Linked DNA regions of Homo sapiens: all the other regions are linked to region 3. Evidence: fine-mapped expression QTL. A gene starts in region 3. Each other region holds a variant in brackets. All regions are shown on one strand. Distances are between the middles of the regions.

The links. PIP is the estimated chance that this variant, and not a neighbour inherited with it, causes the effect. A credible set is the group of variants that fine-mapping cannot tell apart.
Region 1: its variant is the best candidate, but not a certain one, in a credible set for the expression of ANAPC7 in whole blood (INTERVAL, PIP 0.68).
Region 2: its variant is the best candidate, but not a certain one, in a credible set for the expression of ANAPC7 in unexposed skin (GTEx, PIP 0.59).

What each region holds. Positions count from the first base shown.
Region 1 is chr12:110,284,318-110,287,080 of GRCh38, reverse strand. All of the region lies in intron 3 of ATP2A2 (ATPase sarcoplasmic/endoplasmic reticulum Ca2+ transporting 2), which reads right to left. Among named protein-coding and RNA genes, the nearest start is that of ATP2A2, 4.5 kb to the right of the region's middle. The variant A/G (reference allele first, on the strand shown) is at 1,683.
Region 2 is chr12:110,654,520-110,657,282 of GRCh38, reverse strand. HVCN1 (hydrogen voltage gated channel 1) reads left to right here. Exons shown (of 8, transcript NM_032369.4): 5 at 1,945-2,049. Among named protein-coding and RNA genes, the nearest start is that of HVCN1, 33 kb to the left of the region's middle. The variant C/T (reference allele first, on the strand shown) is at 1,093.
Region 3 is chr12:110,402,541-110,405,303 of GRCh38, reverse strand. ANAPC7 (anaphase promoting complex subunit 7) reads left to right here and starts at 1,596. Exons shown (of 11, transcript NM_016238.3): 1 at 1,596-1,777. The coding sequence starts at 1,677.

The DNA.
Region 1 (2,763 bases), 120 kb after region 3:
GGGTTTCACCATGTTGGCCAGGCTGGTCTCGAACTCCTGACCTCAAATGATCCACCCACCTCGGCCTCTCAAAGTGCTGGGATTACAGGCATGAGCCACTCACTGCACCCGGCCAAATAAAGCAAATTTTAATCCAAGGTAAAAAGCACGTTCTGCTGTAAACTGGGAGACAGTCATGATATTGTGACTCAGATATCTATACACTGTGATAATAGGAAGAGCTCTTAGTATCATAAAAAGAAAACGAAAGAAAAAAGTGCTTAAAAAGATCATAAGCACATTTTGCTCCTAGTATTCTCAGAAACTTGCACTGTGCCTTTGGGCCCTCAAACAATTGCTCAATAAATGAAGAAATTTACATCAAGTTTTTTTTTTTTTTTAAATAAAGAGGAAATGGAAATTAAACATTTCGAGAATGATACAGAGAATTACCAATAAACGTTACGATAATTTCTGGGGGAGGACTTTCAGTCATTAATAAAACGGAAAAAAAAGCATGAATTAGAACTCGTTCCCTTCTGATCCAGATATAAAGCTATGTAAAAACATTCAATGCTTTCAGGCATGAGAAAACAATCTTTTTAAAAAGTACTCTATTAAATCCACCTTTCAAGTCATTATTTTAAGAAAAGCTCTGAATAAACTAGTTAAACCAATCAGTAATTTGCCCTTCTTATCCCATTTTTAAAATCAAAAATTAAAAGATACAGAAGAAAATTAAAATCACTACAAATCCAGTATCAAATGCTTTGAGTATTCTCTTCTGAGAAACTACAGTAAAAAGATCTCATGTATTTTCAGAAAATTCTACTGAAACAAACTCACCCAAGTTTTTGTGACATCAAAAGCACTAACTTAGGCCAGGCGCAGTGGTTCATGCCTGTAATCCCAGCACTTTGGGAGGCTGAGGCAGGTGATAACCTGAGGTCAGGAGTTCGAGACCAGCCTGGCCAACAAAGGTAAACCCCATCTCTACTAAAAATACAAAAATTAGCCGGGCGTGGTGGTGGACATCTGTAATCCCAGCTACTCAGGAGGCTGAGGCAGGAGAATCACTTGAACCCAGGAGGTGGAGGTTGCAGTGAGCCGAGATTGCACCACTGCGCTCCAGCCCGGGCAACAAGAGTGAGACTCCATCTACATTTAAAAAAAAAAAAAAAAAAAAGCACTAACTCAAGGGGGTCTAGTAGGAAGAAAAGAGACACACACATGCAAATGGTCAAATGTAACCTAAAGGTTGAGAAGTACCACAGTCTAGAAAGTTTTATTAGCATTTTAGGGTCAATCTAAGTAGCTGACATGGGAAACGACGGTGGAAGGTAGAGAAACCTATGCAAATTATTACCATATTAATTATGACTTTATGATTTAGACAGATGGGAGACCAACATGGCCCTAATGCCCACCTCCTTCAGATCTTTTCGCAAATGTCACCTTCCTCAAGAACTTTCCGGACCACCCAATTTGAAAACTGTTCCCCCTTTCACATACTCTGATATCCAAACCCCCTTGCTTTATTTTTCTCAGCAGTATTATCCTCCAGGTAAGGGTCTCTGTCTGTTTTATTCACTACTGTATCCCCAGTGTCTGTGACAGGTGCTCAATAAATATCTTAACAAAGCAGGAAAAGAGAAGAAAGGGCAGGCATCAGTTAAGCAACCATACGATGTGTTACATTTAGA[A/G]CAAAGTTGGTAATCAAGAAGAGAATGAAAAGATAAAGTGAATGATAGAGGGGGGGTCTTCAGTGTCAAATTAAGCAATTTCTAATGTTCATATGCACTGGAAGATGAAGCTTATTTCTTTCAATCCAAGTGACCGTTTCAAAAAAACACTTTGGCCAATATTACAAATTAAACTAGATCCCTACAGGTCACAAGCATAGCTTCCTATTCTATGCCACAGCAAAATATTAACTATAGTTAACAGTTTACTACTTAGTTTGATATTTGAAGTAAGTCACTAATATTCTTTTTAATTTAAGCATGACTTGATGACGCATGATGTATATAAGAATCGCCTAGTCACTTCTCCAAAAAAACCTGAATATTCTACCATGTTTTTTCTGTTACATCAATAGGAATAAACTGACACAAAAAGAGAGTCAGTGCTCTTTCTTTTAAAAGATACAGACAGGAGGAATGAAACACTAAAGACAATGCAGCAGCAGTACCCAACCCCACATGAAGAAAATCAACACAACAGGTCTTATATCTGCAATTCCTTGATCAAACAAACCAAAGCAAATTAATTCTATAGAAGTACTCCCTAAACACTTATTCTTTTGCTATTTACCAACTCATAAAATAAAAATGTAACACAGTTCATTTCCTGAGCAGTAACTCCACAGTTACCAAAAAGGAGCTCAAATTTCAACTCCAAAATATAGCTCTATAATGCTCCACAAAGCCAAGGTCCTATCTTATAAAAAAAATTAAAGCATTTATTTAAAAACCTGCTTGAAATGCTTACAAACTATAAGCCTCTAATTACTTCAAAGTAAAAAATGAACAAACAAAACCCACACACATCATTAATTTAAAATGCTAATATAAAGTCACTCAAACTGGCCACTCAAAAAACAGACCCAGTGCAACCCCAATAGTAACACCAGTGGCATGGTTTCCCACACTGCTTCAACTTGTAACACAGAGAATTCAGTAAAAATGTATTTTGCTTCTGGCTTGTAGTCAGCTGATTAATTTTTAAGAAGTTCCCAATGACCTTATCGGACCCCATTATTTAACTGCCAACGCTATTATGTAC
Region 2 (2,763 bases), 250 kb before region 3:
ACCTCAGGTGATCTGCCCGCCTCTGCCTCCCAAAGTGCTGGGATTACAGGCATGAGCCACCGTGTCCGGCCCCAGAGCATTTTCAAATGGAAACCTGGTACCCATTAGCAGTCACTCCCCATTCCCCCTCCCCTAGCCCTGGGCAACTGTGAACCTGCATTCTGTCTCTGGATTTGCCATTTCTGGACATTTCATTAGATGGGATCATATAATGTGTGATCTTGTCTGTCTGCCTTCTTTGACTTAGAATGACGATTTCATAGGAGCGGGGGTCAGAACCTCATCCTTTTCATGGCTGAATATTGGGTCTGTTCCTTGTAGCTCTGTGACTTGGTTTTACCTCACATGAGCTCTCAGATCCCTTTAGTTCCAAAATAAAACCAAGGAAAAACAACAACAAAAACCCTACTAGAGGCTTGCACCTTTATTAAGCTTGCTGAATTTGAATATGTGTGAAAACTTCATTACAAAGCAATTTGCCATGCAATTTTCACAAGAAACCACATCATAATACTTTAATTACTGAAATAATTACCTACAGGTTGAAAGGATCAAAGGATTAATAGTCTGTTCTTGCAGAGGCCTGAACTTGTTTAATTTTAACCTGAAACTGCAGAAATTGCCAAGATAATGGCAGGTTAATTTTCAGAGGCCAGAATCTACTGATCTGAGAGTGTGAGCGGCAAGGCCCTGGCGGGGGGGTGGGTACGGTGATGGCCTGGAATTTCCAAGGGAAGAGAAGGGTCACTCGAGGTCCTTTGGGGCTCCTCCCACTGCTGCATCTCCACTGCCATTATGGTAACCCCAACACTGTCACCTCCACCCTGCCATCAGTGCCCTCGCCAACATCATCACCAGCTGTCACCGTGACTGCCATCACCACCAGCTGCTTCCCACAGCCACCATCAGTGAGACCACCCACCCACTCCACACTGCTCCCCACCTGTCCTCTGTCAGCCCATCACAAAGCCCAGGAGGCTGTGTTTCCCATAGCAGCTCTCCTGAATTCTCCAGGACACCAGGACTCCTCTCCCCTTCACCATCTTCACCCACTATGAGCACACGAGAGCTGGGGCAGGTACCTCGCATCTC[C/T]AGGCAGAAGCTAGTTTGTAAGCACAGCAGCCGTCCCTGTAGCCAAGGAACCTGCAGTCAGCAGTCCCCAAGGTCCCTTCCAGGACTCGGACTGCCGAGGCAGGGCTGTGTTGAATTATTTATTGAGCATCTGTTCTGTGAGCACCCCAGCAACAGCAGTCCCCAGGAACAGAAAAATACAAACTTGCCTGGGCACGGTGGCTTATGCCTGTAATCCCAGCACTTTGGGAGGCCAAGGTGGGTGGATCACTTGGGGTTAGGAGCTCGAGACCAGCCTGGCTAACATGGTGAAACACCATCTCTACTAAAAATACAAAAATTAGCCAGGCATGGTGGTACGTGCCTGTTATCCCAGCTACTCGGGAGGCTGAAGTGGGAGAATTGCTTGAACTCAGGAGGCAGAGGTTGCAGTGAGGCGAGATCATGCCACTGTACTCCAGCCTCGGTGACAAAACAAGACTCTGTCTCAAAAAAAAAAAAAAAAACTGATTATTTGTTGCCATCTAGGTATGGGCAGTTTGGTTTGAGAGGTGGTATTTGGGAAACAGTGACCAAAGGTCAGAAAATGAGCCAGAGATGTTCTGGGAGGGCAGGGAAGGTGGGCAGCGCCTAGAGGCAGAGCAGGCCAGGAGGGTGGCGGGAAGGAGGCTGGCAGCTTCTATCAGAGAGGAGCTGGCCCTGCACAGCCTCCATCCTGGTGGGGCCTCTGGCGAGCTATAGCAGTAGCCTCCCATCCTTAATGGCTTTGCCCAGTGGTTTCACCCACGTGCTTCCAAGCCAGCTCTTAATGATGGGAGAGGGAGGGCCTCTGTGGGGGTCTCATGATCTCTGGCACCTTCCCTCGGCCCACAGGTCATCATCATCTGCTTGGTGGTTCTGGATGCCCTCCTGGTGCTTGCTGAGCTCATCCTGGACCTGAAGATCATCCAGCCCGACAAGAATAACTATGCTGCCATGGTAGGGGTTGACAGCTCTTCTGGGGTCTTACTGATATGTTTTGCTTGTGTTATCTGCACAGACGGGGTGCAGAGTGGAGCAGCTGACACCCCACTTGGAGTAGCAAGGTCTGTGGTAGTTTGATAGGTGTTTTCGTCTTCCTTTCCAGAATATGGATTAGCATTTACTACAAGCAGGAAACGTTGTTTCACATGATGGCTGGAATCCTGGGCGATGCTAGGCTAGTGAGCTGGAGCATGTGGGGTGGATCCACTCTGCCATCTCTGGGTCAGGAGGGGCATTCCTCCTGTCTTCTGTTGATGGTCTGCATGGTCCCCTTGCTGGGCCATCAGGGGATCTGCTGTTTATTCACTGATTCAGTTACTGAGCCCATCCCAGATGTTCACCCAAAGGGTGGTGGACATACCCTGTCTCAGTTCCAAGGGCGGAGATCAAGAGAGTTAAAATCATCCCTGGTTGGGCATGGTGGCTCACACCTTTAGTCTCTGCACTTTGGGAGGACAAGGCGGGTGGATCACCTGAGGTCAGGAGTTCGAGACCAGCCTGGCCAACATAATGAAACCAAATCTCTACTAAAAGTACAAAAAAGTAGCTGGGCGTGGTGGCATGCGCCTGTAATCCCAGCTACTCAGGAGGCTGAGGCAGGAGAATCGCTTGAACCCCAGAGGCGGAGGCTGCAGTGAGCCGAGATAGCGCCACTGCACTCCAGCCCGG
Region 3 (2,763 bases):
TTCCCGGTCTGTTTCACTCTGACCACCGGTGCATGTCATGTACCCCCTGCTTACTCAATCGATCACGACTCTCTCACGCGGACCCCCTTAGAATTGTGAGCCCTTAAAAGGGACAGGAATTGCTCACTCGGGGAGCTCGGCTCTTGAGACAGGAGCCTTGCTGATGCTCCCAGCCGAATATACTCCTTCCTTCTTTAACTTGGTGTCTGAGGAGTTTTGCCTATGGCTCGTGCTGCTACCATCCTGCCTGCACCCAGGTGAAACAAACAGCCTTGTTGCTCACACAAAGCCTGTTTGGTGGTCTCTTCACACGGACGCACATGACAGTGGTGGCAGGCGCCTGTAATCCCAGCTACTCGGGAAGCTGAGGCAGGGAGAATTCCTTGAACCCGGGTGACAGAGGTTGCAGTGAGCTGAGATTTTGCACTCCAGCCTGGGCGACAAGAGCAAAACTCCGTCTCGAAAAAAAGAAAAAAGAAAAGTTCACAGTGATGATGCCCACCAAAATCAAATAGAAGGTCTCACACATCCAGGAAACTAGAGTAGGGGATGAGATGGGAAAAGGATCTACAGGAGCTTCAACTGTGACAAAATGTTAAGAGCTGAAAAAGTTGCTGATGAAGATACACTGTGATTTTTTCAGAGCATTTTTTTTGCATCTACTACTGTAAAAATCAAATGAAAACAAAATCTAGACCAAAACGACTGTCTCCTTTAAGAAAGGAGCGATAGGCTAGATCTGAGAGGATGACTGTGGAGAATATTCGGACTCTGACTCAACGACCTAAACTGCCTCATTGGCTCAGTTACCTCCCTGGTCCCTGTATACATTTGAGTTTGCGATCCAACATAATTAACCAGTCGATCTGATTCCAAGTCAACCATTTAACAACCTGAGCACAAAATTTAAGCAGGCAGTTTCTTCCCTTGTGGGAAGGGAATGACAACTTCAACTTTATGGATTGTTGTGAGCGTCCCAATAACTTGTGTAAAACTTTCCTAAAACGTTAAGTGTGCCAGACACATACTGGTTTATATGGGTATCAGCTAATTCCTGGATCCAGCCTTTATTTCCACGGATCTAGGGAATAATTTTACATGGGGAAATATACCCCTCGAACCAAGGAGTTCCCCCAGGGCCGAAGCCTGACTTGGCAGGAACACAAAACACCTGAGGAGGGGCGCGGCGGCCCTAGCCTGGTGCGCATGCGCCACTGTAAAGGCCGTTAGGTCTGTCCCTGGCGCCCGATTAGAATATTTAATTCCAGTTGGAGCGTTTTTCCTCACCTTACTGTATTTTATTTCGGTAAATACCCACACATTTTAATTTCTGAGAGGCACAAATTCCTCTCAGACTCATTCAAATTGACCGAGTAGTCTTATAAGGTGCCTTTTGTCTCATTGTAAATCCTCAGTAAAGTTTGCAGTTTAGGATGATAACGTGATTTTTGCGTAAAAATAACAACTCATTTCACCTGAAAAGGACCACGACAGGAGCAGGGACTCGAGTTTCTTTTTATTCGGGCACTTCAGTAGTTACCTCTTGCTTGGGGGTGGTGCCGCGTGTGGACCCGATGGACCCCGGCGACGCCGCCATTTTGGAGTCTTCCCTAAGGATCCTCTACCGGCTTTTCGAGTCAGTGCTGCCGCCGCTGCCCGCGGCTTTGCAGAGCAGGATGAATGTGATAGACCACGTGCGGGACATGGCGGCCGCGGGGCTGCACTCCAACGTGCGGCTCCTCAGCAGCTTGTTACTTACAATGAGTAATAACAACCCGTGAGTTGAGGCGGGTAGCTGCCTGGGGCTGAGGAGAAAGCGGCGGCGGTCTGGGAGCGGGGGCTCAGGGCACGTGGGAACAGGCGGGAAGGAGCGGCCGCCGGCGCCAGCGGAGGCTCCGGGGTCTGCGAGGGCGTCCTGGAGCGGAGCAGACTTCGGAGCGCAAGTTGGGTTCACTGGGTGCCGGCGTCAAGTCCCGCGGGGATGTGGCGAGCGGCGGCTTGGAGACATAGAAGGCAGAGGCTCTGAGGACGACCCAGGCGAGGGTTTCCTGAGGCACCTGTCGCGGGGCAGCGCGACTGTCACATCGCTAGGCTGAATCCTTCCCTCTCGGCTCCTTCCAGAAGAACGTTTTTTTCTCTCGCTGCAGCTCAGGGACCCAGCCTCCTGGTTTTTATGCGCTAGCCCCCGCATCTGAGATTGGTCCCCCCGTTAAGTGTATCAGGAGGGTCCACTTTCTGGCCTTGGGAAACCCCTGAAAACGGGGCCGGGCGCGGTGGCTCACGCCTCTAATACGAGCCCTTTGGGAGGCCGAGGCGGGAGGATCGCTTGAGCCCAGGAGTTCAAGACCAACCTGGGCAACATAGGGAGACCCTGCCTCTACGAAAAGTAAAAATTAAACAATTAGCCGGGCGTGATGGTGCGTGCCTGCGGTCCCAGCTACTCGGGAGGCTGAGGCAGGAGGATCGCTTGAACCCAGGAGGTCGAGGCTGCAGTGAGCCGTGATCGCATCATTGTCCTTTACCGTGGGCGACAGAACGACTGCCTGTCTCAAAAAAAGGAAACGGGAGACTCCATTAATGGGTGGGCGTGGCGCCTTTCATGTTTCCTTGAAGCACTGAGCTGATTCCATCCTTGAGTGCATGTCCCTCTCCTGCTTAATATCCTTTATTGGCCGGGCGTAGTGGCTCATGCCTGTAATCCCAGCACTTTGGGAGGCCGAGGCGGGCGGATCACGAGGTCAGGAGATCGAGATCATCCTGGCT